Linked DNA regions of Homo sapiens: region 1 is linked to region 2. The links come from fine-mapping of genetic effects on gene expression. A gene starts in region 2. The other region holds a variant in brackets. All regions are shown on one strand. Distances are from middle to middle.

The links. PIP is the estimated chance that this variant, and not a neighbour inherited with it, causes the effect.
Region 1: its variant is fine-mapped to the expression of IL34 in lung (TOPMed, PIP 0.90).

What each region holds. Positions count from the first base shown.
Region 1 is chr16:70,610,290-70,626,470 of GRCh38, forward strand. It overlaps a transcript of IL34 not described here. Among named protein-coding and RNA genes, the nearest start is that of IL34, 28 kb to the right of the region's middle. RefSeq lists enhancers at 11,191-11,738, 11,739-12,286. The variant G/T (reference allele first, on the strand shown) is at 9,944.
Region 2 is chr16:70,637,575-70,653,755 of GRCh38, forward strand. IL34 (interleukin 34) reads left to right here and starts at 8,985. Exons shown (of 6, transcript NM_001393494.1): 1 at 8,985-9,401. The coding sequence starts at 9,374. RefSeq lists an enhancer at 12,217-12,717.

The sequences.
Region 1 (16,181 bases), 27 kb before region 2:
AAACTCTTGGTGGATTCTCTCCTTCATCCCCATCCTAGTCTTGTGCCTGTTTTCCTCCAGCGTCTGGGAGTGCCGAGTGTTCAGTTGACCCAGTTCTCCTTCTCTGCTGGAATTTTGGCATCTGGCCCATGTGTCCAGTTCATTCACTCAGCTATGATTTGCCAGAAGTTATAGAGTTTCCTATGTGTCAAGCAGGTGCCAGGCCCTGAGGACACAATGATGACACCAGAACCAGGCTCTGTCCCCAGACCCTGTGGTCATTCCTGTGGGGAGAACGACACACAACACACAACTGAATGCAGTTAGGATAATGTCGAGTGGCCAGTGCTGTGTGGAAAGTGCCGCAGAGGGAGTGACAGGGGTGGCCTGGTGGCCAGAGAAGGCATCTCTACGGAGGTGATGTTTGAGCTGACAAGAAGAAACCAGCTGGGGAGAAATCTCTTGTGGAATATTCCAGGAAGAGATAAGGCAAAGTCCTCAGGGAGTAGCCGTCGGTGCGGGACAGTGGGTGAAGCTAGGGTGAGGAGGAAGGAGGGGCCCCCTCAAGCCTGCCGGGAAGCCACGGAGAGCAGTTAGGGTTGATTCTGAGGGCAGATTCCAAGATTCTTCTGGAAATGAAAAAACTGCTTGCGTTCTTTCCCCCCCTTCCATCCTTTGTGATTTTGGGGGCTTCTTCTTTCTTTCTTCTTTTTGTTGTTGTTTGAGACAGGGTCTTGCTCTGTGGCCCAGGCCGGAGCACAGTGGCCTGGCACAATCTCAGCTCACTGCAACCTCCATGTCCCTGGTTCAGGCAGTCCTCCCGCCTCAGCCTCCTGAGTAGCCGAGACTACAGGTGCGCACCACCACGCCTGTCTAATTTTTCTGTTTTTAGTAGAGATGGGTTTCTCCATGTTGCCCAGGCTGGTCTCGAACTCCTGTGCTCAGGGGCTTTGTATTTTGAAACACATGTGAGAGGCTCTTGGAACTGGAAGGAAGGGTTGGTGCCCCCAGATTGCCTGAACTCGCTCTTGTATCCACTTCCTAGTTGCTGTGAAGGGGGAGGGGCTGCCAGGTACGGCAGATTTGTGTCCTTCTCCCCGCCACCTTGCTGGAGATACCTGGGAGTTTATACCATTCTACACCTGCAGGGGGGCCACTGACTGAATTAGGGGTGCAAAAGCCTGACCTCTTTGCCTCAAATAGAACAACACTGTGGTGCTATTTAAAAACAGCCTTCGGGCTGGGTGCAGTGGCTCACACCTGTAATCCCAGCTCTTTGGGAGGCTGAGGCAGGTGGATCGCTTGAGCTCAGGGGTTTGAGACTAGCCTGGGGCAACATGGTAAGACCCCATATCTACACAAAATTTAAAAAAGTTACCAGCCTGACCAACATGGTGAAACCCCGTTTCTACTAAAAATACAAAAATTAGCTGGGCATGGTGGCAGGCACCTGTAATCCCAGCTACTCCGGAGGCTGAGACAGGAGAATCGCTGGAACCCAAGAGGCAGAGGTTGCAGTGAGCCGAGATCACACCACTGCACTGCAGCCTGGGTGACAGAGCAAGACTCTGTCTTAAATAAATAAATAAATAAATAAATAGCTGGATGTGGTGACAAACACCTGTGGTCCCAGCTCTTCGGGAGGAGCAGGAGGATTGCTTGAGATTGGAGGATTGCCTGAGCCCAGGAGGTCAAGGATGCAGTGAGCCATGATTGCACCTCTGCACTCCAGCCTGGGCAATACAGTGAGACCCTGTGTAAAAATAAAAGATAGCCTTCTGTCTTGAGGTTCCCTCCCTTCATTAATCATGTGAAGCCCAAAGCCTGTCTCAGGCTCTGCTTCCAGGAGAGCCAGCCTCCAACAGGCCGATAGGGGCTGTGTGTTCTGTAGTCTAGAAATCGGGGTTCTGGGATCATGGAACCAGCTGACCCCTGGGGGCTTTTCCTTCCAGCTTTAAGAGTCTCTAAAGCTGTGTGATTTCCTCAAGTCACATAGCAAGTTATTGGCAGAGCCAGGCCCACAAACTACTCACAGCCTGAAAGCACTGGGGGCTGGGGGCTGGGGGCTAGGGGGATCTGCTGGTGAATGGTGAGTATGGTGCAGAGGCCAAGGCCCAAGCTGGAATACGGTGCAGAGGCCAAGGCCCAAGCTGTGGTTCATCCAAGGCTGTGCTCCCAGATGAAGCTCTGGATCTCAGGTAAGGCCCACTCTGCCGTAATTACTCCAGAGACTTTAGTTTCCTGAATTCTGCTCCCTTTACCTCTGTATTAGAATGATTCACACTAAAGTGTGAAAGATTGTCAGCTCAGAACCCTCCCAGAAGCAATGCATCCTGAAAAGAAAGTGCTTGTTAACCCACATCAATCTCTAATTGAAGGGACTTTTTGACAGGTATAAAGTGAGTTGGAAAAACGCACACAGTGTAAATCTGGAGCCTTTGGGGCTCAGGAGGGATTCCTCAGCTTCCCCAAGATCAGCTTCCCCACCCCCATTTCTGCTTCTCCCAATTAGAACACATGTTTTTTGTTTGTTTTGAGACAGAGTCTCACTCTATTGCCCAGGGTGGAGTCCAGTGGTACAATCTCAACTCACTGCAACCTCTGCCTCCCCGGTTAAAGCGATTCTCCTGCCTCAGCCTCCCAAGTAGCTGGGATCACCACGCCCAGCTAATTTTTATATGTTTAGTAGAGGCGGGGCTTCACTGTGTTGGCCAGGCTGGTCTCGAACTCCTGACCTCAAATGATCTGCCTGCCTTGGCCTCCCAAAGTGCTGGGATTACAGGCCTGAGCCACTGTGCCCGGCCTCAGACCACATCTGTTGAGAAATGCATGTCGTCTTCTTCAGGTTCCCACAGCAGGGCCGGTCGAAGGGGTGTCACTGGAAGTGAAGGTGACGCAACTGAAAAAATAATTTTGTGAGAAGTGTATTTTTGCAGAGGCTGGTGGTTTGAACTAATCTCCCTGGTAAGTGGTTTATTTCTCCGGAGAGTGAAGGACTGTGCATGATTTAGTAAATTTCCATGCCATGTTCTGAAGGGCTGGCATCCCTTCTTGGCTCAGGCAGGCTTGTAGCGTAGACTGGGGACATGGGGTTGGAGCGGGGCGGTTTCCTGAGGCATGGCGGCCACACTGGATGGGGCCTCACCTGGTCTCCACCCTTACTGTACAAGTGCCCTTGGCAAGTCACTTACCTTTTCCAAGGCGCAGTTTCCTCATCTGTGAAACAACTGGAGTTGGCTATTCCGGAACCTTGGTACTCAAAGTGTGGTCTGCAGACCAGTGGTATCTGCAGCACCTGGGAGCTTGTCAGAAATGCAGAGTCCAGCCAGGAGTGGTGGCTCACACCTGTAATCCCAACACTTTGGGAGGCTGCGGTGGGTGGATCACCAGAGGTCAGGAGCTCAAAACCAGCCTGGCCAGCACAGTGAAACCCTATCTCTACTAAAAATACAAAAATTAGCCAGGCATGGTGGCGTGCACCTGTAGTCCCAGCTACTTGGGAAGCTGAGGCAGGAGGATTGCTTGATCCTGGGAGGTGGAGGTTGCAGTGAGCTGAGGTTGCGCCACTGTACTCCAGCCTGGGTGACAGAGTGAGACTCTGTCTCAGGAAAAAAAAAAAGAAAGAAATGCAGAGTCCAGCCAGGCACGGTGGCTCACCCCTGTAATCCCAGTGCTCTGGGAGGCTGAGGCAGGAGGATTGCTTGAGGCCAGGAGTTTGAGACCAGCCTGGGCAATACAACAAGGCTTTGTCTCTTAAAAAAAAAAATTATCCAGGCGTGGTGGTGCACGCCTGTAGCCCCAGCTACTCAGGAGGCTGAGGTGGGAGGACTGCTTGAACCCAGGAGTCTGAGGCTGTTGTGAGCTGTGATCATGCCCCTGCACTCCAGCCTGGGCAATGGAGCAAAACCCTGTCTCAAAAAAAAAAAAAAAGAAGTGCAGTATCCCAGGCCCTACCCCAGACTTTCTGAGTGAGTCTATATTTTAACAAGATTCCAGGTAATGTGTCTGTATGGCACAGTTTGAGGAACCCTTCTTTGGAGCAGACTCCTCAAATGTGGTCCTTGCACCACCCCATCAGTGTCATCCGAGAGACAAAGCATGCTGGAAATGCAAGTTCATGGGCCCCTGACCTACTGAATTGTATGTCTGAGGGAGGGGCCTGGAGCCTGTGTTTTTTAACAGCCTCTCCAGGTGGTTCTTAAGCCCGCTGAGGTTTGAGAAGCATGGAAGCTCAGATTCAACAGTGATGGGAGCCGAGGTTTAGCTGTGGTGCAGCTGCTGAACACGGAACCTGTTTTGTTTTTGTGCTGCTTTCAGAAATGTGCACACACTTGCCTTTCACAGCAATTTCATGATGTTGTTTGTCCTTATCTTTGCTCTGCCTAAGAGATAACTGGGTTTTAAGGGAAGTTATGTGAATTGCCTACACTCTTTGTGTCTCACAGTGTCTTGCAATAGCAATATTCACATAAAGCATTTCTGGCAAGTGTCAGTGAGCTGTTACAGGTGATAAAACTTCTTGTAAATATTTGTTCCTTGATTATAAATGACAGAGGCTCTGTTGGAACAGGAGCTGGGGTAGATCTTGTAGGTCTTGCCCAAGGCTCAGGAGCTGATGAACTGCAACTCCTCTGTTTTACTGCTTAGTATTTTGATTAGAGAATAAACTCATACGGTTTCAACATCATGTAAAATAGAACTATAGCAAAGAGTTTTCTTCCTGCTCCTGTCCCATAACCGGCCTCACCGGGTAACTGTTTATATTTTATTGGGTCTAATCTAATTAGAGCTGATCCTCAGGAAAACAGAAACTCCTGATCTATGGCTCCCCTGTTACCCCCCAAATCTCTGGACTTACGGTGTATGCATTTTTGCAACTTATTTTACTACCCTGACAAAAAGTCCATCGAATTCTAGACTTATTTGGGTTAACAAACATCTTCTTTTAAAGATACACTGGCCAGGTGTGGTGGCTCACGCCTGTAATCCCAGCACTTTGGGAGGCCGAGGTGGGTGGATCAAGAGGTCAAGAGATCGAAACCATTCTGGCTAACATGGTGAAACCCCGTCTCTACTAAAAGTACAAAAATTAGCTGGGCGTGGTGGTGCTCACCTGTAGTCCCAGCTACTCAGGAGGTTGAGGCAGGAGAATTGCTTGAACCTGGGAGGTGGAGGTTGCAGTAAGCCGAGATTGCGCCACTGCACTCCAGCCTGGCAACAGAGCAAGACTCCGTCTCAAAATAAATAAATAAATAAATAAATAAAATAAAGATACACTGTCTCTGAAAGGTGTCTGAGTTGCCAATCTTTCACGCTTTAGTGTGAATTATTCTAATATGTTCACTTTATGCAAATGCAAGCATATACAAATATATAGATATAGATATAGGTAGATGAAAGTGCCAGGCGCAGTGGCACGTGCCTGTAATCTCAGCACTTTGGGAGTCTGAGGTGGGGCAAATCACTTGAGCTTAGGAGTTTGAAACCAGCCTGGGCAACACAGTGAAATCCCATCTCTACCAAAAATACAAAAAATTAGCTGAGTGTGGTGGTGCACACCCGTGGTCTCAGCTACTCGGAAGACTGAGGTGGGAGGATCTCTTGAGCCCAGGCAGTGGAGGTTGTGGCAAGCTGAGATGGCACCACTGCACTCCAGCGTGGGTGACAGATTGAGATCCTGTCTCAATAAAAAAATCCGTCCCCCCTCAAACTCCTTCCACAGATATTTATAGATAAAAGCTTTGCCACCTCTGCTGAACACAGCTTCCAACATAGAAAACACACCATTCAGTGTCTTGCTTGTTTTACTGAATCTATCATGCTATACTACTGTGTGGTGAACATGCAGGTTATACCATCTGCTATCACAGACGCTGATGAGATGAAAAATCTCATACACGTGGCCTGTTGCAGGTGCATACTGTATATGCAGGATAAATTCCCAGAAACGGCATTGCTAAGTATCTGCATTTGTGATTTGAGAGATATTGCCAATTTCCACTCCATAAGGTTAATACCAATTTGCACTTCCATCAGCTTTGGATGAAAAATTAGTTTGCCCGCATCATTGCCAACACATTAAATTGGATTTATATCATTGGATTTTTACCAATCTGATAGGTGAAAAACAGTGACTCAATGTAGTCTTAATTTAAATTTGTTATGAAAAAATTTTAATTTATAATGTGTTTAAGGCCTATGTATTTTTCTATGACCGTCTTACTCATATTGTTTTGCTTATTTTATTTATTTATTTTTTTGTGAGCAACATGTCTGTTTATTTCACCTGGGTGCAGGCGGGCTGAGTCCGAAAAGAGAGTCAGCAAAGCGTGCTGGATTATCATTAGTTCTTATAGGTTTTGGGATAGGCGGTGAAGTTAAGAGCAATGTTTTGCGGGCAGGGGTGGATCTCACACAGTACATTCTCAAGGGTGGGGAGAATTACAAACAACCTGCTTAAGGGTGGGGGAGATTACAAAGTACATTGATCAGTTAGGTGGGGCAGGAACAAATCACAATGGTGGAATGTCATCAGTTAAGGCTATTTTTACTTCTTTTGTGGATCTTCAGTTACTTCAGGCCATCTGGATGTATACGTGCAAGTCACAGGGGATGCGATGGCTTGGCTTGGGCTCAGAGGCCTGACATTCCTGCCGCCTTATATTAATAAGAAAAATCAAAATAGTGTTGAAGTCCTGGGGCGGCGAAAATTTTTGGGGGGTGGTATGGAGAGAGAGTGGGCGATGTTTCTCAGGGTTGCTTCAAGCAGGATTAGGGGTGGCGTGGGAACCTAGAGTGGGAGAGATTAAGCTGAAGGAAGATTTTGTGGTAAGGGGTGATATTGTGGGGTTGTTAGAAGAAACATTTGTTGTGTAGAATTATTGGTGATGGCCTGGATATGATTTTGTATGAATTGAAAAACTAAATGGAATAAGAGAAGGAGAAAAACCGGTATAAAAGGTCTAAGAATTGGGAAGACCTAGGACATCTGATTAGAGAGTGCCTAAGGAGATTCAGTATAGTCCTGCCAGCAAAGATTATTTATTTACTTCAAGAGTTAAGAGTGGCAGTTTGGGGATAGCACGAGGAGATATCAGCTGTGATGGCTTGGAGAAACTGTGTAAACCGGCAGTGTAAACAAGAGCAGGGCATGTATGAGTAGTTGAGAACGGAGAATAGGAGTATGACTAGACAGAAGATAGTAGGGATGACAAGTTTTTTTGGGGCACAGTCTAAGTTGGTCTGGTGTCTGGAATGAGACTGGGGCCTAATAAAAAGGAGCGTCTATACAGGAGCTTAAATGGGCTGTACCCCCTGTAGCATTCCGAAGACAGGCCTGAATTCTGAGAAGGGAAAGTGGTAAAAGTATTGTCCAGTCCTTTTTAAGTTGGTGGCTGAGCTTGGTGAGGTGTGTTTTTAAAAGACCTTTAGTCCATTCTACTTTTCTTGAAGACGGAGGACCGTAAGGGATATAAAGGTTTCACTGAATACTAAGAGCCTGAAAAACTGCTTGGCTGATTTGACTAATAAAGGCTCGTCTGTTATCAGACTGTATAGAGGTGGGAAGGCTAAACTGAGGAATTATGTCTGACAGAAGGGAAGAAATGACTGCGGTGGCCTTCTCAGACCCTGTAGGAAAGGCCTCTACCTATCCAGTGAAAGTATCTACCTAGACTAAGAGGTATTTTAGTTATCTGACTCAGGGCATGTTGAGTAAAGCTAATTTGCCAGTCCTGGGTGGGGCAAATCCTCCAGCTTGATGTGTAGAGAAGGGAGGGGGCCTGAATAATCCCTGAGGAGTAGTAGAATAGCAGATGGAACACTGAGAAGTTATTTCCTTGAGGATAGATTTCCACAATGGAAAGGAAATGAGAGGTTCTAGGAGGCGGGCTAGTGGCTTGTACTATAGCATAGCCTGCCTTTGCTGGTGTGTGGTGATTAGGCCTGGTGGAACCTCCATCAATAAATCAAGCGTGATCAGGGTGAGGAACAGGAAAGAAGGAAATTTGGGGAAATGGGGTTAATGTCAGGTGGATCTGAGAGATACAGTCATGGGGGTCAGGTGTGGTATCAGGAATAATGTGGGAGGCCGGATTGAAGTCTGGGCCAGGAACAACGGTAATTGTGGGAGACTCAACAAAGAGTGAGTATAGCTGAAGGAGCCGGGAAGCAGAAATTATATGCGTCAGGTATGAGGAAGAAAATAGATTTTGGAAGTTATGAGAAATGTAGAGAGTGAGTTGAGCATAGTTTGTGATTTTGAGGGCCTCTAAAAGTATTAATGCAGCGGCAGCCGCTGCACGCAGACATGAGGGCTAGGCTAAAACAGTAAGGTCAAGTTGTTTGGACAGAAAGGTTACAGGGTGTGGTCCTGGCTCTTGTGTAAGAATTCTGACCACGCTAACCATGCCTAGGGAGGAAAGGAATTGTTTTGTAGAAGGTGCTGGGGTTTGAGAGATCAGTCGGACAGGGAGATCACGTGTGTTTTTATGAGAATTATGCAGAGATAGGTAACAGATGAGGAAGAAATTTGGGCTTGATTGAAGTAATGGGGGCTGTCTGTGAAGCTTTGCAGCAGTACAGCCTAGGTAATTTGCTGAGCTTGATGGGGGTCAGGGTCAGTCCAAGTGAAAGTGAAGAGAGGCTGGGATTAACGGTGCAAAGGAATAGTAAAGAAAGCATGTTTGAGATGTAGAACAGAATAATGGGTTATAGAGGCAGGTATTGAGGATAGGAGAGTATATGGGTTTGGCACCACGGGGTGGATAGGCAAAACAATTTGGTTGATAAGGCATAGATCCTGAACTAACTTGTAAGGCTTGTCTGGTTTTAGGACAGGTAAAATGGGGGAATTGTAAGGAGTTTATAGGCTTTAAAAGGCCATGCTGTAGCAGACGAGTGATAACAGGCTTTAATCTTTTTAAAGCGTGCTGCGGGATGGGATATTGGCGTTGAGTGGGGTAAGGGTGATTAGGTTTTAATGAGATGGTAAGGGGTGCATGATCGGTCGCCAAGGAGGGAGTAGAGGTATCTTGTGGGTTAAGGTGGGGGAATACAAGAGGAGACGCAAAGGAGGCTTTGGATTGGGAAGAAGGGTGGCAATGAGATATAGCTGTAGTCCAGGAATAGTCAGGGAAGCAGATAATTTAGTTAGAGTATCTCGGCCTAATAAGGGAACTGGGCAGGTGGGGATAACTAAAAAGGAGTGCTTAAAAGAGTATTGCCTAAGTTGGCACCAGAGTTGGGGAGTTTTAAGAGGTTTAGAAGCCTGGCCGTCAATACCCACAACAGTTATGGAGGCAAGGGAAACAGGCCCTTGAAAAGAAGGTAATGTGGAGTGGGTAGCCTCCGTATTGATTAAGAAGGGAAAGGGCTTACCTTCCACTGTGAGAGTTACTCGAAGCTCAGCGTCTGTGATGGTCTACAGGGCTTTCGAGGCGATCGGGCAGTGTCAGTCTTCAGCCGCTAAGCCGAGAAGATCTGGGAAGGAGTCAGTCAGAGAGCCTTGGGCCAGAGTTCCAGGGGCTCTGGGAGTGGCTGCCAGGTGAGTTGAACAGTCCGATTTTCAGTGGGGTCCCACACAGATGGGACGCGGCTTAGGAGGAATCCCGGGCTGCCGGCATTCCTTGGCCCAGTGGCCAGATTTCCAGCACATGTAGCAAGCTCCTGTGGGAGGAGGTTCTGGAGGAACGCCTGGCCGCTGCGGTTCAGGAGTTTGGAAGTTCTTGTGTGCTGGAGATGTGGCTGGGGTTTGTCTCACAGTGGAGGCAAGGAATTGCAACTTTTTTCTATTATTGTACACCTTGAAGGCGAGGTTAATTAAATCCTGTTGTGGGGTTTCAGGGCTGGAATTTAATTTTTGGAGTTTTATTTAATGTCGGGAGCACATTGGGTAATAAAATGTATTTTGAGAATAAGATGGCCTTTTGACCTTTTAGGGTCTAGGGCTGTAAAGCGTCTCAAG[G/T]TTGCAGCCAAACAAGACATGAACTGGGCTGGATTTTTATACTTGATGAAAAAGAGCCTAAACGCTATCTGATTTGGGATAAAGAAAAAGGAGCATTCACCTTGACTATGCCTTTGGCTCCAGCCACCTTTTTAAGAGTGAATTGCTGGGCAGGTGGGGGAGGGCTAGTCACGCAACGAAACTGTAAGCCCCACCAGGTGTGAGGAGGGGAGGTGATAAAAAGATAGGGTGGAGGAGCGGAGGCTGAGGAAGAATTGGGACCTAGCTCAGCCTGGCGAGGAGGGGAGAGGTCAGATGGGTCTGTAGAAAAGGAAGATTAGAAAGACTCAGCGACACTTGGGGTTGGGACTGAGGGGACAGGCGGGAGGGAAAGAAGGAAGATTTGGTACGAGTTGCATTGGGCACAGAGACTAGGAAGGGACTGATGTGTAAAAGAATGCCTGGACGTCAGGCACCTCAGACCTTCTGCGTATTTTACAACAAGAATTATTTAGATTTGCAGGATGGAAAAATTCAAAGTGCTATTTTCTGGCTATTTGGAACTACTGTCGAGTTTGTATTGGGATCAAGGGGCATTGCAGAAGAAAAGGCACTTAGGTTTTAGGTCAGGTGTGAGTTGAAGAGGTTTTAAGTTTTTGAGAACACAGGCTAAGGGAGAAGAAGGAGGAATGGAATGTGGAATCTTACGTATAGTGAAGGAGGCAAGCCCAGAGAAAAGAGTAGAGACACGGAGAAGGGGTGGAGGGTTCTTGCCCTCCAGAAAAGCAGAGAAGGGGTTGGGGCACGGAAATAAGGGATTGAGACACAGAGATAAGAGTTTGGGTGTGGAAATAAGCAATTAGGGGGTTCTTGCCCCCTAGGAAAGCGGGACTTGTCGCTAAGGGTGAAGGAGAAGGGGTTGAGGGGTACTTGCCCCTGCCCCAGGAAAGCAGGACTTGCCGCTAAGGTTGAAGGACCAAGGCAGGCGTCCCTGCATGGTCTGACACCCTTGAAGCGTGCCTGTATAATCAGAGAGGCGTCCCTGCAATGATTAAACACCAAGGGAAGGCTGCCTTCCCAGTCCGTGACTGGCACCGGAGTTTTGGGTCCACGGATAAAACATGTCTCCTTCGTCTCTCCCAGAAAATGAAAGGAATTGAAATTAAGAGAAGGGAGAGATTGAAGAGTGGAAAGAAGAAAGTGGTTGAGGGACAGTGAGAGAGGTTGGAGAAGAGTAAGAAGGGGCCGCTTACCTGATTTAAAATTGGTGATATTCCTTGGGCTGGTCGGTCTGAGGACCTGAGGTCGTAGGTGGATCTTTCTCATGGAGCAAAGAACAGGAGGACAGGGGATTGATCTCCCAAGGGAGGTCCCCCGATCCGAGTCATGGCACCAAATTTCATGCGCGTCCGTGTGAAGAGACCATCAAACAGGCTTTGTGTGAGCAACATGGCTGTTTATTTCACCTGGGTGCAGGCAGGCTGAGTCCGAAAAGAGAGTCAGTGAAGGGAGATAAGGGTGGGGCCGTTTTATAGGATTTGGGTAGGTAAAGGAAAATTACAGTCAAAGAGGGTTTGTTCTCTGGCGGGCAGGAGTGGGGGTCGCAAGGTGCTCAGTGGGGGTGTTTTTGAGCCAGGATGAGCCAGGAGAAGGACTTTCACAAGGTAATGTCATCAGTTAAGGCAAGGACCGGCCATTTACACTTCTTTTGTGGTGGAATGTCATCAGTTAAGGGGGGGCAGGGCATATTCACTTCTTTTGTGATTCTTCAGTTACTTCAGGCCATCTGGGCGTATATACGTGCAAGTCACAGGGGATGTGATGGCTTGGCTTGGGCTCAGAGGCCTGACAGGTTTCACTGAATACTAAGAGCCTGAAAAACTGCTTGGCTGATTTGACTAATAAAGGCTGGTCTGTTATCAGACTGTATAGAGGGGGGAAGGCTAAACTGAGGAATTATGTCTGACAAAAGGGAAAAAATGACTGTGGTGGCCTTCTCAGACCCTGTAGGAAAGGTCTTTGCTTATTCAGTGAAAGTGTCTATTTAGACTAAAAGTTATTTTAGTTATCTGACTCAGGGCATGTTGAATAAAGCTAATTTGCCAGTCCTGGGCGGGGGCAAATCCCTGAGCTTGATGTGTAGGGAAGGGAGGAGGCCTGAATAATCCCTGAGGAGTAGTAGAACAGCAGATGGAACACCGAGAAGTTATTTCCTTGAGGATAGATTTCCACGATGGAAAGGAAATGAGAGGTTCTGAGAGGCGGGCTAGTGGCTTGTACTATAGCATAGCCTGCCTTTGCTGGTGTGTGGCGATTAGGCCTGGTGGAACTGCCATCAATAAATCAAGCGTGATCAGGGTGAGGAACAGGAAAGAAGGAAATTTGGGGAAATGGGGTTAATGTCAGGTGGATCAGAGAGATACAGTCATGGGGGTCAGGTGTGGTATCAGGAATAATGTGGGGGGCCAGATTGAAGTCCGGGCCAGGAACAATGGTAATTGTGGGACTTAAAGAGTGAGTACAGCTGAAGGAGCCGGGGAGCAGAAAGTATATGCTTCAGGTATGAGGAAGAAAATAGATTTTGGAAGTTATGAGAAATGTAGAGAGTGAGTTGAGCATAGTTTGCGATTTTTAGGGCCTCTAAAAGTATTAATGCAGCGGCACCCGCTGTATGCAGACATGAGGGCTAGGCTAAAACATTAAGGTCAAATTGTTTGGACAGAAAGGCTACAGGGTGCGGTCCTGGCTCTTGTATAAGAATTCTGACCACACTAACCATACCTAGGAAGAAAAGGAGTTGTTTTGTAAGGGATTGAGGTTTGGGGGATTAATCGGACACGAGCAGCAGGGGGAGCACCTGTGTTTTTATGAAGAATTATGCTGAGATAGGTAACAGATGAGGATGAAATTTGGGCTTGATTGAAGTAATGGGGGCTGTCTGTGACGCCTTGCAGCAGTACAGCCCAGGTAATTTGCTGAGCCTAATGGGTGTCAGGGTCAGTCCAAGTGAAAGCGAAGAGAGGCTGGGATGATGGGAGCAAAGGAATAGTAAAGAAAGCATGCTTGAGATCCAGAACATAATAATGGATTGTGGAGGGAGGTATGGAGGATAGGAGAGTATATGGGTTTGACACCATAGGGTGGATAGGCAAAACAATTTGGTTGATAAGGCACAGATCCTGAACTAACTTGTAAGGCTTGTCTGGTTTTAGGACAGGCAAAATGGGGGAATTGTAAGGAGAGTTTATAGGCTTTAAAAGGCCATGCTGTAGCAGGCGAGTGATAACAGGCTTTAATCCTTTCAAAGCATGCTGTGGGATGGGATATTGGCATTGAACAGGGTAAGGGTGATAAGGTTTTAATGAGATGGTAAGGGGTGCATGATCAGTCGCCAAGGAGGGAGTAGAGGTATCTTATACTTGTGGGTTAAGGTGGGGGAATACAAGAGGAGGATGCAAAGGAGGCTTTGGATTGGGAAGAAGGGTGGCAATGAGATGTAGCTGTAGTCCAGGAATAGTCAGGGAAGCAGATAATTTAGTTAAAGTGTCTCGGCCTAATAAGGGAACTGGGCAGGTGGGGATAACTAAAAGGAGTGCTTAAAAGAGTATCATCTAAGTTGGCACCAGAGTTGGGGAGTTCTAAGAGGTTTAGAAGCCTGGCCGTCAATACTCACAACAGTTATGGAGGCAAGGGAAACAGGCCCTTGAAAAGAAGGTAATGTGGAGTGGGTAGCCTCCGTATTGATTAAGGCGACGGACTTACCTTCCACTGTGAGAGTTACTCGAAGCTCGGCGTCTGTGATGGTCTACGGGGCTTTCGAGGTGATCAGGCAGCGTCAGTCTTCAGCCGCTAAGCCGAGAAGGAGTCAGTCAGAGAGCCTTGGGCCAGAGTTCCAGGGGCTCTGGGAGTGGCTGCCAGGTGAGTTGAACAGTCCGATTTTCAGTGGGGTCCCACACAGATGGGACGCGGCTTAGGAGGAATCCCGGGCTGCCGGCATTCCTTGGCCCAGTGGCCAGATTTCCGGCACGTGTAGCAAGCTCCTGGGGAAGGAGGTTCTGGAGGAATACCTGGCTGCTGTGGTTCAGGCATTTGGAAGTTCTTGTGTGCTGGAGATGTGGCTGGGGTTTGTCTCACAGTGGAGGCAAGGAATTGCAACTTTTTTTCTGTTACTGTACACCTTGAAGGTGAGGTTAATTAAATCCTGTTGTGGGGTTTGAGGGCCAGATTCCAATTTTTGGAATTTTATTTAATGTCGGGAGCACATTGGGTAATAAAATGTATTTTGAGAATAAGATGGCCTTTTGACCTTTTAGGGTCTAGGGCTGTAAAGCGTCTCAAGGTTGCAGCCAAACAAGTCATGAACTGGGCTGGATTTTTATATTTGATGAAAAAGAGCCTAAACGCTATCTGATTTGGGATAAAGAAAAAGGAGCATTCACCTTGACTATGCCTTTAGCTTCAGCCACCTTTTTAAGAATAAATTGCTGGACAGGTGGGGAAGGGCTAGTCACTGAACGAAACTATAAGCCAGACAGGGTGTGAGGAGGGGAGGTGATAAAAGGATTATAGGGTGGAGGAGGGGAGGCTGAGGAAGAATTGGGACCTAGCTTGGCCTGGAGAGGAGGGGAGAGGTCAGATGGGTCTGTAGAAAAGGAAGATTAGAAAGACTCAGTGACGCTTGGGGTTGGGACTGAGGGGACAGGCGGGAGGGAAAGAAGGAAGATTTGGTACGAGTTGCATTGGGCACAGAGACTAGGAAGGGACTGATGTGTAAAAGAATGCCTGGACATCAGGCACCTCAGACCATTTGTCTATTTTACAGCAAGAATTATTTAGATTTTGCAGGATGGAAAAATTCAAAGTGCCATTTTTTGGCTATTTGGAACTACTGTTGAGTTTGTATTGGGGTCAAGCAGCATTGCAGAAGAAAATAAGGCGTTTAGGTTTTAGGTCAGGTGTGAGTTGAAGAGGTTTTAAGTTCGTGAGAAGTCAGGCTAAGGGAGAAGGAGGAATGGATGGTGGAAGGTTGCCCATAGTGAAGGAGGCAAACCCAGAGAAAAGAGAGCATAGAGATATGGAGGGAAGGGGTTCGGGGGTTCTTACCCTCCAGAAAAGTGGGAAGGGGGGTCGGGGCATGGAAATAAGGGATTGGGGCACAGAAATAAGAGGTTGGGGTGCGGAAATAAGGGATTGGGGGTTCTTGCCCCCTAGAAAAGCGGGACTTGCCGCTAAGGGCGAAGGAGAAGGGGTTGAGGGGTACTTGCCCCTTCCCCAGAAAAGCAGAGAAGGGGTAGAGAGGGAGAGAAGGAGTTGGGGAACTTGCCCCTCCCCCAGAAAAGCGGGACTTGCTGCTAAGGGTGAAGGACCAAGGCAGGCATCCCTGCGTGGTCTGACACCTTTGAAACGTGGGTGAATAATCAGAGAGGTGTCCCTGCAATGATTAAACACCAAGGGAAGGCTGCCTTCCCAGTCCGTGACAGGCGCTGGAGTTTTGGGTCCACCGATAAAACGTGTCTGCTTTGTCTCTCCCAGAAAATGAAAGGAATTGAAATTAAGAGAAGGGAGAGATTGAAGTGTGACGCCAAGATTGAAAGGAGAAAGAGGTTGAGGGATAGTGAGGGAGATTGGAAAAGAGAGTAAAAAGTGGCCACTTACCGGATTTGAAATTGGTGAGATGTTTCTTGGGCTTGTCTGTCTAAGGACCTGAGGTGGTAGGTGGATCTTTCTCACAGAGCAAAGAGCAGGAGGACAGGGGATTGATCTCCCAAGGGAGGTCCCCCGATCCGAGTCACGGCACCGAATTTCATGCGCGTCCATGAGAAGAGACCACCACACAGGCTTTGTGTGACCAACATGGCTGTTTATTTCACCTGGGTGCAGGTGGGCTGAGTCCAAAAAGAGAGTCAGCCTGTTTTGCTTATTTTTAAAATTACATTGTTGGCTTTTTCTTTTTTATTTCTATGAGCTGTTTACATATTAGTGAGATCAGTCTTTTGTGCCTTTGATATAAATTGCATTCAGTTTAGTGTGTCTCTTTTATTTTATTAATTTTTTGTTTTAGTATATACAAGTTTTTATTTCTATGGAGTCAAATTTATCAGTCTTTTATGGTTTCTGAATGTTTAATCATAGGTACCAAAACCTTCCCACTTTAAGAAAACACGATGTGTGTGGGTTTGTTTGTTTTTGTTTTTGTTTTTTTGAATCAGAGTTTTGCTTTTGTTGCCCAGGCTGGAATGGAATGGTGCAATCCTGGCTC
Region 2 (16,181 bases):
CTCAGATGATCTGCCCCCCCTCGACCTCCCAAAATGCTGGGATCACAGGTGTGAGCCACCGCGCCTGGCCAAGTTAATTTCTATATGTGGTATGAGATAAGGGTTGAGTTTAATTTTTTATATACATATATAAGGATGTCAGATAGTTTCCCCAGTGTTGATTGAAGAGACTTCTTTCCTCTGTCTTCTTTGAATCTGACTTTTTTCAGAGACTGGGAGGTTTGATTCTCATAGTTGCTGCAAGGATAAAAAGGTATAATTATTTTGCTATGCTCTATTTAAAGCAATCGGCACATGGTCAGCACTCAGTATATACCAGTTCTCAGATTTTGCTAACTGCTTTTCTGTGGTTTGACATTTAGGTGGTTTCCAGGTTTTTTTGTTTTGTTTTGTTTTGTTTTTTGCTTCAAGTGTAAACAGCAGTGCAATGGATATCCCAGGCATTCAGCTTTGTTGTCTTCTTTAAAATTATTTTAGAGTATATTTCTGGGTCTTTCTCCATACTACAAATCAGTGTAAAAAGTGGACCCATGCACTCTGCCAGAAGCCATGGGCTGCTTTTGAATTAGCCCTGCTTCCAACCAGAGGGAGCTCTCTGGGAGGTTTAAAAACTGGAATCAGACTGGGCGCGATGGCTCATGCCTGTAACCCCAGCACTTTGGGAGGCCAAGGTAGGAGGACCACTTGAGCCTGGGAGTTCAAGACCAGCCTGGGCAACTTAGCAAGACCTTGTCTCTACAAAAGAACTGTAAAACTTAGCTAGGCATGGTGGTGCACACCTATAGTCCCAGCAACTTGGGAGACCGAGGCAGAAGGATCTTGAGCCCAGGAGTTTGAGGCAACAGAGTGAAGATCCTATCAAAAAAAAAAATAAAGAAAAAAGAAAAAAAGAAAAGAACTGGAGTCATCCCCTTCCCTGGGGAAACTTTCCTGCCTTCTGACCCCCCCACTCTCTCTCTGGTCCCCTGGTTGGTGGCTTCTTATCCTCCCAATATCTGCATATGCTTTCCCATGATATTTTATACTTATTTATTATTTTTTTGAGACAAGGCCTTTCTCTGTCACCCGGGCTGGTCTTTCTGTGTCAGCCACGGCTCACTGCAGCTTGGACCTCCCGGGGTCAAGCCTCTTGAGTACCTGGGACTGTGGGTATGCCACCACATCTAGCTAATTAAAAAAAAATTATTTGTAGAGATTAGGTCTCTCTATGTTGCCCAGGCTGGTCTCATACTCCTGGGCTCAAGCGATCCTCTTGCCTCAGCCTCCGAAAATGCTGGAATTACAGGTGTGTGCCACCGCACCAGCCCAGTTTGTTTGTTTTTAAACAAATAAACTGGTTTAAGTAAAAAAAGTGAGTGAATGCAGGGAAATCTATCTCCATGTAGGTAGATCTGGTTCAGGGGTGTTGTGGTAGACACCTGGCTCTTAGTTAGGAAATGCTGACTAAGGCGTTGCCCTGTTTTGGTGATTCTGTGGCTTGTAAAGCTGGCATGGATTTTCATGTTTTATTTCACCTGAGAACACTCCAGCTTGGGAGATGCCCTTGGGATATGGTGTGGCACTGAGCTTTCCAGATGTGGTGACATTGATCACAGATAGGTGGCACCCACCAGAAATGTACAGCCCGGATCCAGGAGTGTATTTGATCAAATTCATTCAGATGTCTTTGGGTCATAATGGGAAAATGCACGTCCAGAACCCAGCCAATCTTGTTTGAGAAGCAGGCATTTGAAAACAAATTACACGGGCCTGGAGACTGTCTGATTTCAGGCAGAGGCCAGAAATAGGAGGAAAGCACAATATTGCGTTTATATCAGACATCTTGGCAAAGCTGTTGATCTGCTACTGCCTCTGCTTGCCTCATGGGGAAACGCTTGATCAGAAAGCGAGATGATGAATTAGAATATCACAATTAGCAGCCCTCAGTGAATTAATGGATCTAGGCATTAAGTGGCATTGCCTGCCAACATCAGCAAAGAGTGGAGTGCAGTTGTCACGTGCCTTCTGTTGAAAGAACACAGCACCGCTTGTATCGTGACGAAGGGCTTGAGCTTGACCCTGTTCCCACTGCAAACATGCAGAAAGACAAGACAGAGGAGTCCAGGCGTGGTGACTCACGCCTCTAATCCCAGCACTTAGGGAGGCCGGGGTCGAGGATTGCTTGAGCCCAGGAGTTTGAGAGCAGCTTGAGCAACATAGTGAGACCCTGTCTCTACAAAAACTAAAAATAAAAATTAGCCAGGTGTGGTGGTGCATGCCTGTAGTCCGAGCTACTCAGGAGGCTAAGGTGAGAGGATCACTTGAGCCCAAGAGGTAGAGGCTTCAGTGACCTGTGATTACGCCTCTGCACTCCAGCCTGGGTGACAAAGGGAGACCCTGTCTCCGAAAAAAAAAGACAGAGGAACATGTTGAAGTGGACCATGGATCTGCAATCAGGAAACTCTAGGCTGTAGACCAGGGACACTTTTTAAAAGAAAAACTTTAGAAAGAATAAATTTAATAGTTTACTATCATGATCAAGTATTAGGTACTGTACATAATTGTATGTGCTAGACTTTTTGTTTTGTTTTCTTTTGTTTTGCTTTGAGACAGGGTCTCACTCTATCACCCAGGCTGGAGTGCAGTGGTGCCATCGTGGCTCACTGCAGCCTTGGCCTCCTGGGCTCAAGCAATCATCCTGCCTTAGCCTTCTGAGTACCTGGGACTACAGGTGCACACCACCATGCCCGGCTAATTTTGTATTTTTTATTTTTGTAGGGACAGCCTCTTGCTATATTACCTTGTGTCAACTGTAATCACAGCACTTTGGGAGGCCGAGGTGGGTGGATCACATGAGGCCAGGAGATCAAGAGCAGCCTGGCCAACAAGATGAAACCCTGTCTCTACTAAAAATACAAAAGTTAGCCGGGTGTGGTGGTGCATGCCTGTAATCCCAGCTACTTGGGACGCTGAGGCAGGAGAATCTCTTGAACCCGGGAGGTGGAGGTTGTAGTGAGCCGAGATCTTGCCACTGCACTCCAGCCAGGGCGACAGAGCAAGACTCCGTCTCAATAAAAAAAAAAAAAAAAGTTAGTTTTTAAATATATATATTTCAATCAATTAAAGTTATTTTTAAGTCAGGCCTTTTGCAGTATAGTTGATGTATGGTAAAGCTCATCCTCTTTAAGCATACGGTTGGATAAATTTCAACAAATAATATACCAACGCTTCATTCAGGGTTTAAAGCATTTCCTTCACCTCCCAAAATTCCCCTGCGCCCCTTCTCAGTCAATCCCCTTCCCCACTCCCCATTTTGGGATGTCACCGATATAATTTCTGTCCCTGGAGTTTTGCTTTTTCCAGAAAAGGCTGAATGTACATACAGGGTATATAGGTATATACTCCTAGGTATATACTCAAGAGAATTGAAAGTGTTGCCTGGGCGTGGTGGCTCACACCTGTAATCCCAGCACGTTGGGAGGCCGAGGCAGGCAGATCACTTGAGGTCAGAAATTTGAGACCAGCCTGGCCAACATGGTGAAATCCTGTCTCTACTAAACATACAAAAAAATCAGCCGGAAGTGGTGGTGCACGCCTGTAATCATAGCTGCTTGGGAGGCTAAGCAGGGGAATCACTTGGACCTGGGAGGCAGAGGTTGCAGTGAGCTGAGATCACACCACTGCACTCCAGCTTGGGCAACAGAGCGAGACTTCATCTCAAAACAACAACAAGAAAATGTTATGCCTACACAAAAACTTGCACATGGATTTTCATAGCCATATTATTCATAATGGCCAAAAGGTGGAAACAGCCCAAAAGTTCACCAACCAAGGGCACTGTATACTTAAAGAAGGTGAGCTTCACTGTCCATCAATTACACCTCAATAAGCCTGACTTTAAAGTAACTTCAATGGATTGAAATACATAAATTAAAAAAATTCTTTCCCTCCCTCTCTCCCTCCCTCCCTTCCTCCCTCCCTCCCTTCCTTCCTTCCTTCCTGCCTTTCTTTCTTTTTTTTTTTACTTTTTGAGATGGAATCTCACTCTGTTGCCAAGGCTGGAGTGCAGTGGCATGATCATGGCCTGTTGCTGCCTCCACCTCCCCAGATTCAAGTGATCTTCCCACCTTAGCCTCCCTAGCAGCTGGGAGTACAGGTGCATGCCTCCTTGTCCGGCTAATTTTTGTATTTTTTGTAGAGACAGGGTTTTGCTGTGTTGCCCAGGCTGGTCTTGAACTCCTGGGCTCAAGCAATCCACCCCCCCGCAACCTCCCAAAGTGTTGGAATTATAGGCATGAGCCACTGCGCCTGGCCAAAATTAATAATTTCAAAATGACACTAAAAATCCTCATTAGTTATTTTGGAGGAAGCCAGAAAACAATACAATCTGAAATGGACAAAGAAAATGTGGGATATTCATGCAAGGGAGCATTATTTGACAATAAAAAGAGTAAAGTACGGATACATGCTGTGTCTTAGTTTACCTGGCCTTCCATAAAAAAATACCATAGACCGGGTGGCTTAAACAACAGAAATCTGTTTTCTCACCATTCTCTGGGCTGGAACTTTGAGATCAGGGCACCAGCATGATTGATTTCCGGTGAGGGCTCTTCCCTTGGGTTGCAGATGGCCACCTTCTCACTATGTACTCACATGACCAGTTCTTTGTGTGAGTATGGGAAGAGACAGAGAGAGAGAGAGACAAAGACAGAGACAGAGAGAGTGAGCGTACTCTGATGTCTTTTTTTTTTTTTTTTTTTTTGAGACGGAGTCTCACTCTGTTACCCAGGCTGGAGTGCAGTGGCATGATCTCGGCTCACTGCAAACTTTGCCCTCTGAGTTCAAGCGATTCTCCTGCCTCAGCCTCCTGAGTAGCTGGGATTACAGGCACCTGCCACTGCGCCCGCCTAATTTTTGTATTTTTAGTGGAGACGGTGTTTCACCATGTTGGTCAGGCTTGTCTTGAACTCCTTACCTTGTGATCCTCCCGCCTTGGGCTCCCAAAGTGCTGGGATTACAGGCGTGAGCCACTGAGCCCGGCCTGATTTCTTTTCTTATAAAGGCATTATCCCACCATAAGGACCCCATCCTTGTGACCTCATCCAAACCTAATTATCTCCCAAGGCCTCATCTCCAGGAACCACCACATTAGGGGTTACAACTTCAACACATGTATTTTGGAGAGACACAAACATTCAGTTCATAACATGCTACAAAATGAATGAACCCTGAAAACATGCTAAGTGAAAGAAGCCAGACATGAAAGGTCCCGTATTGCATAATCAATCCCATTTATATGAAATGTCCAGAATAGGCAAATCCATAGAGACAGAAAGAATATTAGTGGCTGCCAGGGGCTGGGAGGAAGAGGGAATAGGGGGTGACTGCTAATGAGTTCAGAGTTTATTTTGGGGGTGATGAAAATGTTCTGTAATTAAATAATGGTGACTGTTGCACAACTTAGTACACTAAAAACCCACAAAGTTGTACACTTTATTATTTATTTTTATTTATTTTTATTTATTTTTGAGACGGATCTCACTCTGTCACCCAGGCTGGAGTGCAGTGGGACTACCTCGGCTCACTGCAACCTCTGCCTCCCGGGTTCAAGTGATTCTCCTGCCTCAGCCTCCTGAGTAGCTGGGATTACAGGTGCGCACCACCGTGCCTGGCTAATCTTTTGTATGTTTAGTAGAGATAGGGTTTTGCCATATTGGCCAGGCTGGTCTCGAATCCCTGACCTCAGGTGATCCACCTGCCTTGGCCTCCCAAACTGCAGGGATGACAGGAGTGAGCCACTGCACCTGGCTGTTGCACACTTTATTTATTTATTTTGAGACAGGGTCTTGCTTTGTCACCCATGCTGGAGTGCAGTGGCGTGATCATGGTTCACTGCAGCCTTGACCTCCCTGGCTCAAGTGATCCTCCCATCTCAGCCTCCCAAGTAGCTGGGACCACAGGCCCGTGCCACTACACCCACCTAATTAAAAAAATTTTTGTTGGTAGATACGGGTTCTCACTATGTTGCCCGGGCTGGTCTCAAAGCCCTGGGCTGAAGCGATCCCCCGGCCTTGGCCTCCCAAGGTGCTGGGATTACAAGTGTGAGCCATCACACGCAGCCTGTACACTTTAAAATGGTAAATTTTATGGCATGCAAATTATATATTGATTTTTAAAAAGAAAAAAGACTTAAGATGCACATCAGAGATTTAAAAAATAACCAGGGAAAATTGAACGTGGATTCTATATGAAATCATATTAAAGAGTTATTAATTTGAGGGTTGTGTGATGACAATATTGTGATTATATATTTTAAAAATCCCTACATGCTGGTGAAATGGCATGTTTGAGATTTGCTTTAAAATATTCCTGGAAAAAAAAATTGGGGGATGAGTGAAGCTGGAATGACAGAAGAGTGATCATTTTTTTCTTTTGTTTTGAGACAGAATCTCGCTCTGTTGCCCCGACTGGAGGGCAGTGGAGCAATCTTGGCTCACTGCAACCTCCGCCTCCTGGGTTCCAGTGATTCTGCTGCCTCAGCCTCCTGAGTAGCTGGGATTACAGGCATGCACCACCACACCTGGCTAATTTTTGTATTTTTAGTAGAGACAGGGTTTCACCATGTTGGCCAGGCTGGTCTCAAAGTCCTGACCTTTTATGGACAACTCTGTGGAAATAACTTTTTTGTTTTTCTATTGGTATTTGAAGTTGTTTTTTCCCCTTCTCCTTGGAGTTTATTCTGCCTCAACTGATTCACCCGCCTCGGCCTCCCAAAGTGCTGGGATTACAGGTGTGAGACACTGCACCCAGCCAGATTGACAATTTTTGAATCTGAGTAACTGCTATATGGGGGTCTGTTATACTATTCTACCTTGTTTCAGTTTGTTTAGACAACTTCCACTATAAAGGAATGAATTTTTTGGGTAGATGGAAATGTTTTGTATCTTGATTATTATAGTAATTACACAGCTCTATAAATGTGCTAAAAACTTTTAGAAATGTATACTGAAAAGGGTAAAATGTAGTATATGTAAATTAGCCCTCAATAAACCTGAAAAAAATCCCCAAACTAATGACAACTAAATGTTCTAGATACGTTAGTGTTTGTAGTGATGCTGTAACAGCAGGGGAATTGCCAGGGTGAGGAGGAGGAGGAGGGGGAGGAGGAGGGGGAGGGGGAAGAGGAAGAGGAGGAGGGAGGAGGGAGGAAAAGGAGGAGGGAGGAGGGAGGAAAAGGAGGAGGGAGGAGGAATGAAAAGGAGGAAGGGAGGAGGAAGGAGGAAGAGGAAGGAGGGAAGAGGAGGAAGAGGAGGAAGTAGGAAGAGGAAGGAGGTGGAAGAGGAAGGAGGAAGAGGAGGGAGGAGAAGGAGGAGGAAGGAGGAAGAGGAGGAAGGAGGAAGAGGAGGAGGAAGGAGGAAGAGAAAGGGAGTAGGAGGAAGGAGGAAGAAGAGGAAGAGGAGGAAGGAGGAGAAGGAAAAAGGAAGGAGGACGAGGAAGGAGGAAGAGAAGGAAGGAGAAAGGAAGAGGGAAGAGTAGGAAGGAGGAGGGGGAAAGAGGAGGAAGAAGAGGGAGGAAGGAGGAAGACGAGGAAGGAGGAGGAGGAAGAGAAGGAGGAAGAGGAAGGAGGAAAAGGAGGAAGGACAAGGAAAAGAGGAGCAGCAGCAGGCAGCGACTGGGGCTGAGATTCAGGGTGACTGCATAAGGGATTAACTTGAACAACCCGTGTTCTCTCTATAAGGCCCTGCCTGCCTGCTGGGCACCTCTTAGGGTAAGGGCCAGCATTCTTTGGTGACACCATGGATCACACAATGAAGAAGATGCCCAAGTCATACCTGCTCTCCCCCGATGGTGTCACTCTGTAGCCATTTTCCCCCACCAGAGGGGAGACAGGGAGGAGGCGAGGGGATGGAAGAGAACTAAATCAGAGACGGAATTCCAGCCTGATCTGCAGAGCAGACACAATGGTCCAGACCTTGCAGAGTCCAGAGGGGCAGATGGGAGGACCACGCACACACGCTGAGCCCTGTGTGGTTGTCGAATTTTGGGAGCAGCCACCAGCCCACAGGGTTTGAATTCCTGTCACACTTCTTACAAGCCGTATGACCTTGGACAAGTGTCTTAACCTTTCTGGGCCTCAGTTTCCTCATTGATAAACTGAGATTTTGCACTTCCATGAGATTGTTGTGAGAGATTCAGTGAATGTAAAGACCTTAGTCCTGGCCGGGTGCGGTGGCTCACGCCTGTAATCCCAGCACTTTGGGAGGCCAAGACAGCAGATCACTTGAGTCCAGGAGTTTGAGACTAGCCTGGCCAACATGGTGAAACCCCATCTCTACTAAAAATACAAAAATTAGCCAGGCATGGTAGTGCACATCTGTAATCCCAGCTACTTGGGAGGCTGAAGCAGGAGAATTGCTTGAACCCTGGAGGTGGAGGCTGCAGTGAGCCAAAATCACGCCACTGCACTACAGCCTGGATGACAGAGTCTGAGACTCCGTCTCAAAAAAATTTTTTTTTTCTTAATTTTTTTTTTATTAATAGAACTGAGGTCTTACTATGCTGACCAGGCTGGTCTCGAACTCCTGGGCTCACGCAATCCTCCCACCTTGGCCTCCCAAAGTGCTGGGATTACAAGCATGAGCCATTGCGTCCGGCTTGTTTTCGGAGTGGGAGCTCGTCTGCTTTTTTAACCTGTCCTTTAGCCTGAGTCATTCATGGACTCTACCATGGCTCTCGATGTGTGAACTCAAACCACCTGTTCATTCCTTGGTCCTGCTTTTGTTCAGGCCCCAGGCTGCCAGCTGGTGTCATCATAACTCACTCATGGGCCAGGGCCGTTCGGACATCCTGAAGTCATTTCTCACGTGAGCCGTGTCCAGCTGCCAGGGCCGGGTGGTCCTGTGCAGGCCGTGGGTGCGGTGTGCGCTGTGGCTGATGGCTGAGTGGCAGCGCTGCTCTTACATAATCAGTTTCTCTCCTCCTTTCTCTTCCTAGAGCCAGATTTCACACTGAGCAGCTGCAGTCGGAGAAATCAGAGAAAGCGTCACCCAGCCCCAGATTCCGAGGGGCCTGCCAGGGACTCTCTCCTCCTGCTCCTTGGAAAGGAAGACCCCGAAAGACCCCCAAGCCACCGGCTCAGACCTGCTTCTGGGCTGCCATGGGACTTGCGGCCACCGCCCCCCGGCTGTCCTCCACGCTGCCGGGCAGATAAGGGCAGCTGCTGCCCTTGGGGCACCTGCTCACTCCCGCAGCCCAGCCACTCCTCCAGGGCCAGCCCTTCCCTGACTGAGTGACCACCTCTGCTGCCCCGAGGCCATGTAGGCCGTGCTTAGGCCTCTGTGGACACACTGCTGGGGACGGCGCCTGAGCTCTCAGGGGGACGAGGAACACCACCATGCCCCGGGGCTTCACCTGGCTGCGCTGTGAGTACTGGGGGGTCCCTAGGGACCTGCATTGGGAGGCCTTGGCCTAGATCCAGGATCTGCCGTAACCATAGCAACCAGGGCATTCTTGCTGGTGAGAAGTTGCGATGCTTCCCAGCCGGACTGCAGACACCCTCTGAGATTCCCACGGCCGCCGTCTGCCCTGTCTGCCGCTCACTTCGGGCTCCGACGGGCAAGCTGGGTGGGCAGTTCTGGCTGGGTGGGCATGGTCCTCAGGGTGGTCTTAGGTCGGGGCAGGCACTGGGGGTAGGTGGCAGCATCTCACCTTTCCAGGCTTGTGGGTGTTGGGGAGCCCCGGGCGGGCAGCAGCGGCCCAGTCCTGGGTATGGCCGGTGGAGGGGGGCAGGGGCTGGTGAAAGTGTCTAGGGACCCAAGACCCACGGCAGAAGAGCAGCCAGATGCCTGGAGAAGGCAGCCTGTTCCCCTCCAACCCTCCCTCCATAACAGAACAGAATTAAAAAGCAGAAAGATAACACTGTTGGTAAAAAGAAAAATAAGTTGAAATGAGGACAGAAAGGAAAAAAAGGATCTGGAAGCCTCTTATGCCTGCTGGCTGGGAGGCCAGACCAAGATCCCCTCAGTCTCCAAGATCCAGTTCAATTGACTCAAATTCAACACATTTTTCCGGTGCCTCCCACGTGCCCACTGCAGAGTCACTGCCATGACAACAAGGACCTTGCTGTCTCGTGCCTCTGTCTCCAACGCCTGGCACAGGGTTGAGTGCTCAGGAACTGTTGGAGGTTTGGGGTATGAGCCTGCGAGGGATTGAAAGAAGAGTTGGGTCCACCCTGGCCCTTGTGGAAATATACAACAAAGGGTTGGGACATTAAGGATGGGTGGAAGGACCCAGCTGGACCCAATGTTCTGGAAACCCCTAGGTCATGAGAAGCAGGGGTGCAGCATGGGGGAGGGGCTACTGGAAATGGTCTAGAAGGTGGGGTGGTGGTCACACAGGTAGACCTGGGGTCATGAGGCCCATGTTCCAGGAAGAGGGGCCAGTGTGAGCAAAGGTTTGGCGGTGGGATGGTGAGGCCAGGCTGGGAGCTGGTTTGGACCCGGCTGGCTGAGGCCTTGAGAGCCAAGCAAAGTGTGCCTCCCTCCCCATAGCAGGCAGCCCTGGAGGATTTGAGAGCCCGGCGGGGGTGGAATCGTGATTGGGAGTTCCTCTGCTCTTGAAGATCAGTCTGGTGGTGTTTGTAGGAGTTACTGCTGTCACCGTCTGTGCAGGAGGGAATGAGGGTCATTCTGGAGGTGGAGGTGCGAATGAAAGGCAAGGGATGCTGGGCTGGTGGCTCACGCCCGTGATCCCAGCACTGTGGGAGGCCAAGGCAGGAGGACGGCTTGAGGCCAGGAGTTTGAAACCAGGCTGGGCAGCATAGCGAGACTCCATCTCTAAAAAAAGGAAAATTAGCCAGGTGTGGTGGCATACATCTGTAATCCCAGCTACTCAGGAGGCTGAGGTGGGAGGATCACTTGAGCCCAGGAGGTTGAGGCTGCAGTAGCAAGGATCGCATCACTGCACTGCAGCCTGGGCAACAGGGTGAGACCCTGTCTTTAAAAAAAAAAAAAAAAAAAAAAAGGAGAAAAGAAAAAGAGAGAAAGAAAAGCAAGGGAGAGGGGAAAAAGCTCCAGGAGGGGTGGGTCTTAGGACCAGGCAAAGACTGGCTGGGGGATGAGGGAGAGGGAGAGCAGCAGATTGAGGTGGGGGCTGGTGCCCAGGGGCTGGGGTGCTGAGGAAGTTGGGCTGCCATAACCAATTAGAAAGCTTCGGGTGGCTTAGAGCAACAGGAATGTGTCGTCTCACAGTTCTGGAGACCGGAAGTGTGAGATCAGGGTGCCTGCAGGGCTGCGTTCCCTCTAAAGGTGCCGAGAAGGAGCCTCCCTTGCCTCTTCCAGCTCCTGGTGGCTCCTGGCTTCCTTGGCTTGTGGCCTAGTCACTCAGATCTCCCTTTGTCTTTGCGTGGCCTTTCCCTTTGTGTGTCTCTATGTCCTCTCCTCTTCTTCCTAGGACACTAGTCACTGGATTTAGGGAACTGCCTAAATCCAGGATGGCCTAATCTTGACATCCTTCATTTAATAATGCCTGTAAGTGGCACAGGACAGGCGAGCCCCCAAGGGGGCTTAGCCTGCGAGGGTTCTTGGCTTTCCCTAGGAGAGAATTCAAGGCAAGCTGGTGGTAGAAGAAAACAGCTTTACTGAAGAGATGTTATAGCTCTGTGCCAGCTCCTGCAGAGCAGGGCTGTGCCAGAGGAAGCGTACTGAGGAGCAGCTCGGGGCCTTTTGCAGTCATATTTATACCCACCTTTAATTGCATGCAGATTAAGGGGCAGTTTATGCAGACATTTCTAGGGAAGGGGTAGTAACTTTTGGGACATTGGGTCATTGCTATGGAAAGCGGTGGTAACTCCCAGGCGTTGCCATGGCAATGGTAAACTGACATGGCACACTGCTGAGCATGTCTTTTGGAATGCTGCTTCTGCCCCGTCCACCCCTGTTTTCACTAGTCCTCAGTTTGGTCCAGTGTCAGGGCTCTGCCTCTGGAGTCGGTCCTACCTCCTACTTCACAAAGACCCCATTTCCAAACAAGGTCACACTCGGGTTCGGGTGAATGTGGATTTGGAGGAGATGCTATTTAACCCACTGCACAGGTTCAGATTTGGTCCCCGGGGCTGGGGGTGACAAGCCTCACTTGTCACTGCACATAGGGTCAACCCAGGGCCAGGGAACCAGGAAGGGAGTACCGTACTCACACAGATCTTTCTTAAGCCTCCTCTCTGTCTTGCAGGTTGTTTTATTATTTTATTTTTATTTTTATTTTTTGAGACGGAGTCTCACTCTGTCACCCAGGCTGGAGTGCTGCGGCACGATCTCAGCTCACTGCATCCTCTGCCTCTTGGGTTCAGATGATTCTTGTGTCTCAGCCTCCCGAGTAGCTGGGACTACAGGCACCTGCCACTGCGCCTGGCTAATTTTTGTATTTTTAGTAGCGATGGGGTTTCACCATGTTGGCCAGACTGGTCTTGAACTCCTGACCTCAGGTGATCCGCCCACCTCGGCCTTCCAAAGTGCTGGGATTACAGGTGTGAGCCTCCGTGCCCAGCCTGTGTTGTGGGTTCTTACCTCTGGGCTAAGACAAGGGCAGGGTGGGTCTCCTGACCAAGGTCAGGGGTGGCACTGGCTGTGGGGTTCCTGGTGTGCAGAGCATGTGGGGGACAGTGGCCTTGAGGTTGGGGCTGTGCTGTCCCTGCCTGGTCCCTGTTTGTTAACCTGTTTCTCTGGGTGGGTGGAGGCAGCAAAAAAAGAAACTTGCCCTTAGCAATGATGTTTGGGCTGCACTCAGAGGAAGGCTGCCCAGTTGGGGGAGAGGCAGATCATCTGTGGACAGGGTTTCCAGGGCAGCTGTGTGCCCACCGTGTCAGGCTGGGAGGCTCAGTGTCACTCCAAGGCACAGTCCCTGCCTTGAGGCCACAGCTGCCGGGTCCCCAGGGCCCCAGAACGGGACACAGAGAAGGGCAGGTGCTGTAGGGTTGGGAGGTGAAGTAGACGGCCAATGGTGATGGCCACACAGGAAAAAAGACCCAGTGTGGACAGAGGTACTGATTTTTTTAAAGAAAAGCTGAAATTTTGAATTGTTGTGTGAAATCCTTGTGGACCAGAGGTGGCTCTCGGGACACCAGCTTGCAACTGTTGCTCTAGGTCTGTGGTTCCAGACCCCCAGCCACAGCTTTACCTGGGACCTTGTTAGAAAGGTAGACTCTCTGCATCCTAGACTGGTTGAGCAGAGACTCTGGGGCAGGCAGGACAACCTGTGCCTTAACGAGCTCTGCAAGGGATGACAATGTCTGCTCCCATTTCTACTGCTTGAGGCGAATCCCCAAATGCACATGTGAAGTTCTCAGCACGCTGGGCTGTGCAGTGTTTAACTGCGTTATGGATTCACACACAGGCTCACGCCTGTAATCCCAGCACTTTGGGAAGCCGAGGTGAGTGGATCACGAGGTCAGGAGTTCAAGACCAGCCTGGCCAACCTGGTGAAACGCCGTCTCTACTAAAAATACAAAAAAAATTAGCCGGATGTGGTGGCGCGCACCTGTAATCCCAGGTCATGAGTGAATGGGGAAGGTGGTGCTGGAGACAGAGACCGATGGGGGCTGATGCAGAAAGGGGAGACCCTGGCGTGGTGATGGGGGGGAGAGAAGAGTCTCTGGGAGGCTTTGAAAGAGGTCTGTGTTGTGAGAGGGTACCTAGCGCAGGGCAAAGCATGAGCCCAGGAGGCAGGGATGATCTTGACCTGCAAGAGTAGATGCTAAGCTGAGGGGTTCAGGACTTAGGACAGAAAGTAAGCAGATGTTAAAGGGCCAAACACTGGTTCAGTTCATGTTTATCTGTTCTTCTCACCCAATACTGTATCAGGCACAGGGGAAGAGGGAGAGAGGAAGTGCAAGATAGATTGCAGACTTGCAACTTAGCAAAAAATGTGGGGCTATATGGGGTACAGGGCTTGAGGAGACCTGAGGCTCTGAGCTGAGCAAGGGCACTCCTGGTGGGAGGTCCTGCAGGGACAAAGGCGAGGCAGGAGGCCTGAGCAGGGCAGGTTTGGAGAAGGCAGTGGGGAGGTAGCAAATGGGTGGTGTGGCCCAGACCAGAGGGGCTGCAAGGACAAAGTCTTCCAAGATGCTGGGGAGTGGGGAAAATCCAATCAGTAATTCCTGCTCATAGCTGGGGGTGGCTCAGGGAGGTGACTCAGCCTGCCTGACTGCTTTTGTAAAAAAAAAAAAAAAGAGGATGGTTATTGCTTTTGTCTGTAACAATAATACATATGGATTATAGAACATAAAAAATGTCCTGGGTGGGTGCGGTGGCTTATGCCTGTAATCCCAGCACTTTGGGAGGCTGAGGTGGGTGGATCACGAGGTCAGCAGTTCAAGAGCAGCCTGGCCAACCTGGTGAAACCCCGTCTGTACTAAAAATACAAAAAAATTTAGCTGGATGTGGTGGCGCACACCTTGTAATCCCAGCTACTCGGGAGGCTGAGGCAGGAGAATGGCATGAGCCCAGGAAGCGGAGGTTGCAGTGAGCCAAGATTGCGCCACGGCACTCCAGCCTGGGTGACAGAGCGGGACTCCGTCTCAAAAAAAAAATAAATAAAAATAAAAATAAATGTCCTGCAAGGCCAAGGCCAGGTGTGGTGGCTCATGCCTGTAATCCCAGCACTTTTGGAGGCCAAGGTGGGAGCATCACTTGAGCATAGGAGTTCAAAACCAGCCTGGGCAAAACAGCAAGACCTCCTCTCTACAAAAAATTAAAAAAAAAATTAGCTGGGTGTGGTGGTGGCACCTGTAGTACCAGTTACTGGGAGGCTGAGGCAGGAGGATTGCTTGAACCCAGGAGTTTGAGATTGCAGTGAACAATGATGGTGCCACTGCACCTGTCTGCCTGGGCGACAGAGCAAGACCCTATTTGAAAAGAAAAACATGAAAAAATCTCCCATAGAGATTTGGTAGTCATGCTATGAACACAGATAGTGTTGAGTCATGCTGTTTTTAAGCTTCACTAAGCATATCTAATTGTTCTCATAGCACAGCCACATCTTTGACAATGTGATTTTTATTGGCTACATGCATTATTATGGAACGTCTAGGCCATTTCCAGATTTTCACTGTTATAAAATAAATGCTGCTCTGTACATCTTTGTTCATAATTTATTGGTTATATCTTTTTTGCTTTTCTTCCAATTTATTCCTAGAAGTGTATTTACTGGGTGAAAGAGTATAGACATTTTTAAGGCTTAGTGGTTTGAAGGGTGCGGATACTACTAAATCGATTAATAACAGAAATTGCTAAATTGCTTTCCAGGACAGCACTTGTCTCACTACTTGGCCAACATCAAGTAGTAATTGTTAAAACGAAATGAGCTGGGTGTATGACCGGGCATGGTGGCTCGTGCCTGTAAATCCAGCACTTTGGGAGGCAGAGGCAGGGAGATCAACTTGAGGTCAGGAGTTTGAGAACAGCCTGGCCAACATGGTGAAACCCCATCTCTACTAAAAATACAAAATATTGGCCGGGTGTAGTAGCCCCTGCTTGTAATCCCAGCTACTTGGGAGGCTGAGGCCTGAGGCACGAGAATTGCTTGAGCCTGGGAGGTGGAGGTTACGGTGAGCTGAGATTGTGCCACTGTACTCTAGCCTGGGTGACAGAGAAAGATTCTGTCTAAAAAAGAAAAAGCTGGGAAGCTGGGTGTAGTGGCACATGCCTCTCATCCCAGCTACTCAGGAGGCCACGATGGAAGGACCGCTTGACACTAGGAGTTTCAGACAAGCCTGGGCAACATAGCAAAACCCTGTCTCAAAAAAAAAAAAAAAAAGCCCCAACAACCCAAAACCACAAACACAAAAACTTTTTCATTTGAATAAAATGGGCCAGGCACAGTGGCTCACACCTATAATCCCAGCACTTTGGGAGGCTGAGGCAGGAGAATTGCTTGAGCTCAGGAGTTCGAGGCAAGTCTGGCCAACATGGCGATACCAGGTCTCTACAAAAAATACAAAAATTAGCAGGCGTAGTAGCATGCAACTGTAGTCCTAGCTACTCTGGAGGCTGAGGCAGAAGGATCGCTTGAGTCTGGGAGTTCTAGGATGCAATGAGCCATGATCCCACTACTGCACTCCAGCCAGGGTGACCAAAAAAAAGAAAAAGAAAAATTATATCTGATTGTTTTAATGTGAATTTATTTATCTAGTTAGTGAGTCTGATATT